3 linked regions of the Homo sapiens genome follow. The protein of the gene in region 1 purifies or fractionates together with the protein of each later gene. This does not show direct contact. Each region holds a gene or a part of one and is shown in the gene's direction. Other genes may lie near its edges. The genes, in order: TSNAX, RGPD8 and SMG7.

Evidence for each region.
Region 2: the proteins of TSNAX (region 1) and RGPD8 purify together in Homo sapiens (affinity purification with mass spectrometry; 3 studies listed by BioGRID and IntAct, with this or other methods). This does not show direct contact.
Region 3: the proteins of TSNAX (region 1) and SMG7 purify together in Homo sapiens (affinity purification with mass spectrometry; 3 studies listed by BioGRID and IntAct, with this or other methods). This does not show direct contact.

What each region holds. Positions count from the first base shown.
Region 1 is NC_000001.11:231,531,531-231,535,187, forward strand, and holds part of TSNAX (translin-associated protein X), read left to right. Parts: intron 1-3,657.
Region 2 is NC_000002.12:112,395,637-112,399,293, reverse strand, and holds part of RGPD8 (RANBP2-like and GRIP domain-containing protein 8), read left to right. Parts: coding exon 1-71; intron 72-1,015; coding exon 1,016-1,195; intron 1,196-1,288; coding exon 1,289-1,372; intron 1,373-3,657.
Region 3 is NC_000001.11:183,475,444-183,479,100, forward strand, and holds part of SMG7 (nonsense-mediated mRNA decay factor SMG7), read left to right. Parts: intron 1-3,657. UniProt on the Homo sapiens protein: Plays a role in nonsense-mediated mRNA decay. Recruits UPF1 to cytoplasmic mRNA decay bodies.

The sequences.
Region 1 (3,657 bases):
AACTTTGTGTTCATAGTGTCTGACTTACAGTGGTCATTAATATAGCCATAATAAATAATGAATACATATTGATTATCTTAACCCTGGCCTAGTTATTATCTCAGTAATAAAAGACTAGATATATTTAGATCCATGTCAGCTACTAATTTAGTTAATAGTTTAAGTTCTTGTTTTTTCAGTTCGTGCAATATACATGATTGGGTGTTTCCTATAGGCCAGGCAGCTTGCGGGGCTGTGGAGTGAAAAGACTTGGGAAATAAAGGCGTTATTAAGAGAGTTAAGTGGTTTAAGGGTATTTCAAGGTACAGAGCTTGATAAATTCAGGAAGTTTATACTTGAAATTTGCTAAGTAAGTAGATCTTAAATGTTTTTACCACAATTAGCTGGGCATGACAGCATGCGCCTGTAGTATGCTTATAGTCCTGGCTACTCCGGAGGGGCTGGGGCAGGAGGACTGCTTCAACTCAGAAGTTTGAGGCTGCAGTGAGCTGTGATTGGGCCACTGCACTCCAGGCTGGGCAACAGAGACCCTGACTCAAAAAGGAAAAAAAAAAAACTAACTGAGGTGATGGATACGTTAATTAGCTTAATAGTGGTAATAACACACACACACACACACACACACACACACACACACACACACACACACACACACAGTTTTGGTTTTTTTTTTTTTTTGGAGACAACGCCTCACCCTGGCCCAGGCTGAAGTGTGCAGTGGCGTGATCTTGGCTCACTGCAAGCGTAGCCTCTTGGGCTCAAGTGATCCTCCCACCTCAACCTCCCAAGTAGCTGGGACTACAGGCATGTGCCACCACACGTGGCTAGTTTTTAGATTTTTTTGTAGAGGCAGGGTCTCACTGTGTTGCCCCTGCTGGTCTCGAACTCCTGGGCTCAAGTGATCTGTCCCCCTTGGCCTCCCAAAGTGCTGGGGTTACAGGCATAATCAATCATGCCTGGCCTTATAATTTTTAATTGTCAGTTATACCCCAGTAAAGGTGGAAAAGCAGGAAGACAACAGGGAAAAAAATTTTAATAAACTTGAAAAAAAAGGTCCAAGTTTCTTTTTTTGGAGGTGTTTATATTATTAATATATGTGGTTAAAGTAATTTTTAAAACTTTATGTAACTCTTTGTTACGTGTCATTTTGTGATAATCTCTTGTTTACTAAGTTCATTTTTTACAACTTGTACAGTATTCCCATTGTGAGACTAAGTAGTAAAACCCAGTTAATACATACCTATATTTAAAGAGGAAAATATTTTAGTTGAGCCTTTTTGATTTCCATGTAATTTAGAAATAAGATGATTTTATTCTCTTCATTTTCATAAACTGAATAATTATTGCTTTCTTACATATAGAGACAGTACTTTTAGGTACAGACTGTTTTTGCTTTCTAGCCATTTGTATTCTAAGAAAATTAAAATCATTTCCCTTTTTTTTCCTTTCATAAGATTTACCAAGTGTTTTGGAAAAGTTTGACATAAAAGCTTACAGGTCTGTCAGAGGAGATTTTAAAAGGGATTTCATGGGAAGTCTTTTTTTTTTTTTTTTGAGATGGACTCTCACTCTGTCACCCAGACTGGCGTGCAGTGGTGCAGTCTCAGCTCACTGCAACCTCCGCCTCCCAGGTTCAAGCAATTCTCCTGCCTCCGCCTCCCAGGTTCAAGCAATTCTCCTGCCTCAGCCTCCCAGGTAGCTGGGACGACAGGCCTGTGCCACCATGCCCGGCTAATTTTTGTATTTTTAGTAGACATGGGGTTTCACTATATATTGGCTAGGCTGGTTTTGAACTCTTGACCTCAAGTGATCCACCCACCTCAGCCTCCCAAAGAGCTGGGATTATAGGCGTGAGCCATCGCGCCCGGCCCGGAAAGTCTTTAATGAGAAGCACTAGCTTCCAGACAAAATTTCATGAGATAGTATAGTTTGTTCAACTCAAACCCAGGATCTTTAATGTCCGAGCAACCACTTTGCTATCAAAGTTGGAGTTAATTGCATTAAAAGGAGTTATCAGATCAATATTCTACTGTTGTTGAATCATCTGAGTAAAGAAATACTGTCTCTTTTTAAATTTATTTTGAGGTAATCTCAAATTTATTTAAAAAACTAGAAGACTTAATGCAGTTGGAAAAATAGTACAGAGAATTTCTGTATAGACTTGACTTAGATTGACCAATTTTTAACATTTTGCCACTTTTGCTTTATTATTCTCTCTATATATGTAAATTTATATGTCTAACCATATATTCTGAACCATTTAAGAACAAGTTGCATGCATCATACCCCTTTACTTGTTAATACTTCAGAATATATTTCCTAGGAAGAAGACTATTCTGTTGTATAACTCTAGTATTGTTAACTAATTTCAGGAGATTTAACACTGACATAATACTTTAATCTACAGTGCATATTTTGACAATTGTCTCAATAAGGTTCCTTCCAGCTTTTTTTCTCTCTAGTCCAGTAATCTAGAACAGGATCACATATTACATTGTAATGTCTCTTTTTAGTTTTCTGTGATCTGGAACAGTTTCCCAGTTTTGTCTTTCTTGACAATGATATTGATTGAAGAATATAGGTCTTATTTAATAGAATATTCCTCAACTTAGATTTGATTAATATTTTCTCATGGTTAGATTCAGGTTATGCATCCCTGGCTGGAATACTACATAAATGATGGTTTGTTGATTTGTTCTTTTTGGGGGTATTGCAAGGGACCAAGTAATGTAAGGCTTCATAAAGAGTTTGGAGTTTGTTAAACGTAATGCAGAGTCATTAGAGAGTCTTAAAAACTAAAGTATATTTTAGAAATGTCACTCTGGCAGCTACAGAAAGGCAAGGTGGGCAGACGCAGACCAGACAAGAGACTATTTTGTAGTTCCGGTACAGTAAGGTATTTGTAAGGTAACTTAGAGGTAATAAAGTAATAAGGTAACTTAGATTTGGATGACAGTAATGAAGCTGATGAGACAGATTCAACAGTGCTTTATAAAATTAACTTATATTACTATTATGAGTAATTTATACTTTATTCCAACTGCATTAGCATACATTTGAAAAAGTAATAGCAGCAAAATAATAAGACATTATTCCATGTTAGGGGCAGTGCTTATTGGGCACATGGATTTGCAGTTCCTTTTCAACAATTTCTTAGTTCCCAGGAGATTGCATACCCTTAGTACGTTTATCTCAAACTACAACAGATGCTCTTATCCAGTATGTTATACTGCTTATGATTTCAACAAGCAGTTCAGTCAGGAAATGTTTTGTGAACACCTGCTGCTAGACATGGATCTATGCTCTGATACAGTGGTGAAACAAGTGCATTTACAAATAAATAATATAATTTTAGCTAGCGAAGGATAAATGTAAATCAGTGAAGCGTGGTAAGGAATGGAGAGTAAGGGAGGAGGGAGGCACGTGATTCTTAAGCAGTCCTTGAGCAGAATGATATCTGAATGATGAAAGTGAAATGTGAGATGATGAGAGGCAGTAGCAAAAATAGAGGCATCAAGAAAGGTACAAGCTTAGAGAATCAGGACTAGCAAGAAGACATAGTCTGCCTGGCTCATGAGCTAAGGGCAGGACATGAGGCAGTTTAATGTGTTAGAGGCATGAATTTACTATGAAAAGATTCTAGATTCTGCGGGTTAT
Region 2 (3,657 bases), on another chromosome or scaffold:
TGACAAAGACCAGGGACTACCTAATAAAGATTATAGATGACGGTGATTCAAATCTTTCAGTGGTCAAGAAAGTAAGTAGCAGGTTGTTGTATGTACGTTCTTACTGATAACCCACTGGTCAGTGTTTTTGCGTTGGTCTTATATTTTGGTAATTTCAAAAATACTCAGTAATATGTTGTTATTAATGCACAGAAGGGATGCGTGTGTCTAAATGCTTAGATTTGCTTGCTTTGTCTTAGGTTTGGTGTGTCTTTTTAAACTTGGGAATCTAGGTATATGCTCTTAAAAAGTACTTCTTGGGGAATTAGAAAAGATTTCTAAGATAAGACATTGATTTTGTTATCTTAGCAGTGTAATCAAAACAAATATTATAACCTCAGGACTAATTCTTAATGAACTTTGCTGAAATTGAAAGTTGTTGCTGACAACTTAAGAGCATTTCTTCTCATCGTCATCAGCCATTATGAACGCCCTTGTTTTCTTGCTGTCAGCTGTTTGAGATTGTCATGATGATGTTAAATTATGTTCAGTCTTCTGAGTGTTTTGTTGATTAATTTGTGTTACTACTCTTTTATTAGGATTTATGTTGTCTGGTGTATTGTAGCATCTGTATTTCTGTCACCATTGAAAATCAGTTAGAAAACATCAGTAACTTATTTTGTTCACTTGGAAAAGCTTTCCAAGTTAACATTCCTCTACAATTATCATGGTTAACAGAAGTAATAGAAAGAGCATGGACTTTAGAATCAGAAGATGTTAGACTGTACAACACTTTTCTGTGTTCCTGAAGAAAAAAATAGAATAAAGACAAAAAAATAAAAATAATAATACAAAACAACAGAAAAACAAAGAAAAAAGATAATTAAAAAACACTTTCACGTGTATTATTATTTAAAGTGTAAAGTGCTTATTAAAGTGACAAAAATGTAAATAAGATAAAATATATCATTTTAGAGTTTTTACTTTTGGAATTTTTTGCAAATGAAAGCCCTTAATTAATGTCTTTTATTTTTAGTTGCCTGTGCCCCTGGAGTCTGTAAAACAGATGCTTAATTCAGTCATGCAGGAACTCGAAGACTATAGTGAAGGAGGTCCTCTCTATAAAAATGGTTCTTTGCGAAATGCAGATTCAGAAATAAAACATTCTACACCGTCTCCTACCAAATATTCACTATCACCAAGTAAAAGTTACAAGGTAAACAGGAAAGAATGGAATCATTTCATTGTGAAATTGTTTCTGTTCTAAGTGTTTTAAATGCTGTTTTGTTATTTTTATTTTTTTTTTCAGTATTCTCCCGAAACACCACCTCGATGGACAGAAGATCGGAATTCTTTACTGAATATGATTTGCCAACAAGTAGAGGCCATTAAGGTAAGTCACTTAATTTCTCTAGCTGTACTTTTTATTCCAAGATTCCTTCCCTGGCTACTCTCTCACTTTTTTTCTGAAGCTGGTCAGAATGTCCCCTTGCCATCCAAATAGTATGGCAAGGGGACATTTTGGTCTTTTTTTTTTTTTTTTAAGACAAGGGTCTTGTTCTGTTGTGCAGGCTGGAGTACAGTGGTATGATCACAGCTTACTGCGGCTTCAACCTCCTAGCTCAAGAGAGCCTCTTGGCTCAGCCTGCCACGAAGCCAGGACTACAGACAGTCACATGCCACCAGGCCCAGCTAATTGTTGTATTTTTTGTAGAGATGGGATTTTGCCATGTTGCCCAGGGTGGCCTTGAACTCCTGGCTCAAACAATCCTCCTGCTTCAGCCTCCCAAAGTGCTGGGATTGCAGGTGTGAGCCACTGTGCCCAGCCTACATACCTCGGTCTTGACCCTTTACCATATTTTGTTTTGTTTTGTTTTGAGATGGAGTCTCACTCTGTTGCCCAGTCTGGAGTGCAATGGTGTGATCTTGGCTCACTGCAACCTCCACCTCCCAGGTTCAAGTGACTCTCCTGCCTCAGCCTCCCGAGTAGCTGGGATTACAGGCACCCGCCACCAGGCCCAGCTAATTTTTGTATTTTTAGTAGACACAGAGTTTCACCATGTTGGCCAGGCTGGTTTTGAACTTCTGACCTCAGGTGATCTGCCCACCTTGGCCTCCCAAAGTGCTGGGATTACAGGTGTAAACCACCGCACCCAGCCCTTTACCATATTTTTGAAAGTACTTTATGTGTCTCTCTCCTCATCTTCCACAAAATTTGAGACCTTCAAAGGTAGAAACTGTTTTATTTAAAATATAAGAGTTCCTGACACAGAGAAGGTTCCCGAGTGATTGAAGTGCTACAATGTACTAATCATACTCTGGTCTATGAGTTCATTCCCAGATTAGCTGTGGATTACATGTGTTTCAAATGTATAGCTAGGAATCGAAAAGTGGTCTGAGCTTCAAAAAGTCTTACTATATTTTAATACTTCCATATGAATTTGACTTAATTATGTAAGGAAATAGTTATGTATATATATCTTATTTTAACAATAGGGTTCAAAGGAGCTTGACTTTTTTGGAATTGGAAATAAAAGTAGGTTCTTTCATGTTTATCAAGCAAGAACTAAATTACTCATACTGCTAAAGTTACATCAAGGATATGCTGATGTGTGGCGATTATTACAGTGTGATCAGCAGCATTTGCAAATTAAGAGAATACTATTTGGTGGGGAAGACATTTTTGAATTTGCACAAAAATTTTGAATGTTAATTCTGTGTAGTCGTGGCCTATGACAATTACATACAATTTTGACTTAACATACAGGTTTCAGGCTCCCAACATTGTATTCTGTGGAAGTATAGTGGAGCACTAGTCCATGAGCTTGAAAAGCTTGGTACTAGTACTGACTCTGCCATTAATTAATGATCTTGGGCCAGTCACTTCCTTTGTGACTGTTTGGCTTCTTATCTTTAAAATGAGAGAATTATTGAAGCCAGTTCTCATCACACTGAATGTTAAAAATTACAGTTACAGCAGTGATTGCAAATTCAAAGCTCTGGTGCGGATACCAACAGTGACTATAAAGTTTTCTAGGTGATTCCACTAGTTTCTTATTTCTTGGATGTGTATGTGTAGCATCTGGACTAGGCACTGTAGATGGATGAATGGGGGAAATTTTATTTAGCTTGAAAATTGAGATAGTTTTGGACCTCATGGTTAGGTCTTTCTGGGAAATTTTTAATTGAAACACTTGTAGAAACAGAAAGCAGACATGCTAGATCTGTCCCTGACCTCACTTGTTAGAACTGATCGGATTCCTGGGCTGATACAGAGAAGTTTGAAACTTTTCAAAATTTACCTGTTTTCTGATACCACTACAATTTCTTTGGAAAAAGAATTTCCTGTTAAGTGTCTGTTTTGTAAGGGGACATTTTGTAGGTTCTAGGGTGTTGGGTATGGTGCTGTCATTTAGTTTTCTTCAGCAGAGATCAGGTAGCCACATAGCTACACTAGACGGCATTGGATCTATCTGCCATCTTGTCAAGGCAGCAGAGTTGTGTTAAGAAAACATTTTTGGAGTCAGATGTGTTTCAAATTCCAGCTGTTATTCCCTGCATCCGTTTCTCTCATTTTAAGATAGGAGCTAATATTGTTTACCTAACAGTGTAGATGGTGTAAAAATTAAGAGTTTAAGTGCATTGGACGTATTATTATATACATAATAAATTCTCTGC
Region 3 (3,657 bases), about 48 Mb from region 1:
GGGTAGACAATGGAGAATCTGAGATGATTTGCTAGAATTAATATGTTCACAGCTATGTGTTAGGAAAATGACTCTGTGTAATGTAGTGGTGGATAACAGAGAAAAGTAAGGTTGTTAGAGCCTGACATTAATTGGGGAGTGACTACTGCTTAGAAAAGGGGAAGACTTCAAAATTGGTCCTTTTTGTAAGGTTCTTTTCCTTACAAAAGATTCCCTTTGGGACTTTGGTCCTGAATAAGGTACTGGCAGTGGATCTAGAAAGTTATGAAAAACAAATTGGCAGAGTGGTGGTACTTTTAATGGGGAAGATCAGTGGACTTTGAGAGGCTTCTTGTTAATGTGCCTTATATTTTATAGCTTGACATGGTAGGGAAGACTTCCTTAGATGTGGAATCAATGATAGTTTGAGATGAACTTAGTTCTTTGAAGAAGGGAGAAAAAAAATGAATACAATGATATTTTTCAGCTAAAATTGAGCAGGCAAAATGGGGGAGGCATAGGTCCTGGGGTCCCTTAAAGATTCCTGGAGCCAGTCTTGTCTCAATCTTAGGCATTTGTCCTAAGTAAATTAAAACAAGTGTTAGAAGTCTGAGACCTAGGTGGTGGTTGTGGGAATCATAAAGGCTTGTGCCAGTCTGAATTTCCCTCCTCCTCTTTTAGATAATCATTCCATTTAAAGTCTGCAGTGGGGACACTAGAGAATGTCTTTAGGGAAGCATTATGTTCACGTTCTTTGAAAATAGAACTGTTGGTTTTTATAGACACTTCAGGGAGGATGCCGAGTATTGCTGAATGGATGTGGTTGGGGGGTGTAGCAATTGTTTTCGTGACCTTGACTTGAAGAATTTTCTTGCCTACCTTTGTCAGTGGTGGAAGATCATGACTGGGCAATTTTTAATCTCTATAGCTACAGATCCTGCCTCATGTAGATGAAAATTAGTTTTGTCTTGGCTGAATTTTAATTTGTTAGAGTAAATGAGCTGGGATGTCTGGCATTGAAATGGTGGGGTGGTGGGAAACCAAGGAGCAAGATGGCTGTTTCAGAAGGGTCAGAAATGAAGATAGGAGGCAAGAAGTCCCAGTAAGACCAATAAAGAGAGAATTCAACATCAAGGGAACTGAATTAGTCTCAAGTTATAAAAATAGAGCAGAGATGAAAGGAAGAAAACCTATCTTCTATGTGGGAAAGATGATGATATTCTGGGCAGGAAAGGATAATGAAATTTTTTGTTTGTTGAAAGGTAAGTATCTTTTTAATACACTGACAAGACTTCTAAGAGAATCAGTTAAGTTGAAAATACTTTGTTATGTTTTATAAAAATAAAAATATGATCTTAAATATGAGGGTTCTAGGCCGAATAACATTGGGAATTTATTACTCAAATTGAAGGAGAATTCAGAGTATTTTCTCTTTTGATTTATGACAGAATGAAAGATTTTAAAAGACTTTGACACCTCTGTTGAGTAAAAGAAAGGGTGTATTGAATACAATTCATTTGATGGGGGTAGGAGAAGGTTAGGATAGGCCGCAGGTGAGGTATAATATTATGCTTTAAAATAATGGCATTTTGAAAAAAAGAAAAGTGGAAATTAACATATCAAAGTTGGAAAAGCAGGAGTGGGGGAAGTATTAAAGTACCAGACAGAGAAGACATCAAAGTTGTTTTGGAAGATGAGAAAGTAGAATAATCATAGCTATAGGGAATACCAGTCAAACAGGTCAAATCCTGTTATAAAAGGTGGCACAGGTGCCACCGAATGACTTCTGCTGCCATTGTGGGAGCCACTGTTCATACTCTATGCTCCCTTCAACTTTCCTCCTTTTCTTCCTTCACTATTCTCTTTTGTCTCTAATTTCTTCCTATGCTGTGAGTGTTTCAGTGAGATCCACTTGAAGTGGATTCCTACTGTTAGACTCCTTTACAGGAAAGGTCCAGAAAGTATCTGTTTTGTTTTGTGTGTGTGTGTGTGTGTGTATGTGTGCATATGTGTATATATACATATATACATGTGTGCATATGTGTATATATGCATATATACACGTGTGTGCATATGTGTATATATGCATATATACATGTGTGTGCATATGTGTATATATGCATATATACGTGTGTGCATATGTGTATATATGCATATATACGTGTGTGCATATGTGTATATATGCATATATACGTGTGTGCATATGTGTATATATGCATATATACGTGTGTGCATATGTGTATATATGCATATATACGTGTGTGCATATGTGTATATATGCATATATACGTGTGTGCATGTGTATATATGCATATATACATGTGTGTGCATATGTGTGCATATATACATGTGTGTATGTGTGTATGTATACATATATGTATATGTGTCTATGCACATATGTGTGTATATATACATATATTTTTTGTATGATACATGTATAGTGAAGACGCTGCATCTCAGTGGCTCACTTGTCAGAAGTTTTGTTACTAATATAACAGCCACAGGGTTGTTTTCTAAGCCAGCAGAAAAATGGTTGTCATTTAAATAGGAAGTAAAATATCCAATATGGTATAAAATAAAAATGTATCACTATAAATCTTGAAACAGAGAGATAGTGGAGATAAGGCTGGATAAAGTAGCAAGCTAAGCCTTATCCTAGCCTGGGGAGAGGAACAGAGAAGATAGTGGGAGCATTGGGAGGAATATATAAATAGGATGGTCTCCAGGTTCTAGAAGAGTCTAGTAATGCTAGATCAGATAGTCACTGTATCCTGAAGCTTCTAGAAGTCTTAGAGCACATGCTGATTTTAGTCCATGTGGTCCACGAAGTCTTCTTCACCTGCCCCATCCCCTTCCTTTCCACCAGGTACATGCTTTACAGAATGTAAAGTAGCTTTTGTCCCGGAATATCAGCCAAAGGTGGTGACATTTTTTGAATGAATGACTGTCTCTTTAGGCTTATAAGTCTTTGTTATAACAGTGTTAATAGCTTATTACCTGCTTGGATATTGTCTGACTAAATTATTTTGGCAGTTAATTTCTGCTTCCCTTGTGGTTTCATTTGGATTCAAAATGTATACTTCCTGTCCTATCTTAGGTTTCATTTCTTTGCTTTCTAACAGCTGTGGTCTTCTGCCTTCATGGTAGAAGAAGCAATTGCTGAGTTTTATGTTGTTGTTTTTAATGGATGTGTTACAGTAAGATCTGGACCCACTAGTATTGCAAGTTTCATGAGGCAGTTTTGAGGTGGAGAGTGGTTCACACTTTAAAAGGGCTGGTGTGTTTTATACTTGAGAAAAATTGTTTCCTGCCTCCGGCTAGCCTTTCAAATTTTTGTATTAGTGTCATGAATGAGTGCCTGAAAGTTTAGATGGGTTAGTTTAATTGATCTTGTGTAGAGAATAAATTATAAAGCATACGTCTTGTAGATAGTGGATTATTCATCTGTTTGTAGGTATATTGGCAGATGGCCATTATATATTGCCATTAAAGTTTTGCAGTCAAGCCATATTTTAGTTTAGTTGCTGTATTGTTATGAATAGACTTATCAGCTGTCTGGGAAATTGTAACTAAGCATTTACAAGGAAATATAAGAGTGGAATTTTGGCAGGTATGTCACATGGTAAGTGACAGCTTGTAACCAGCTCTTTTTTTGTTAGTGTGTAAATGGAGCTGCTT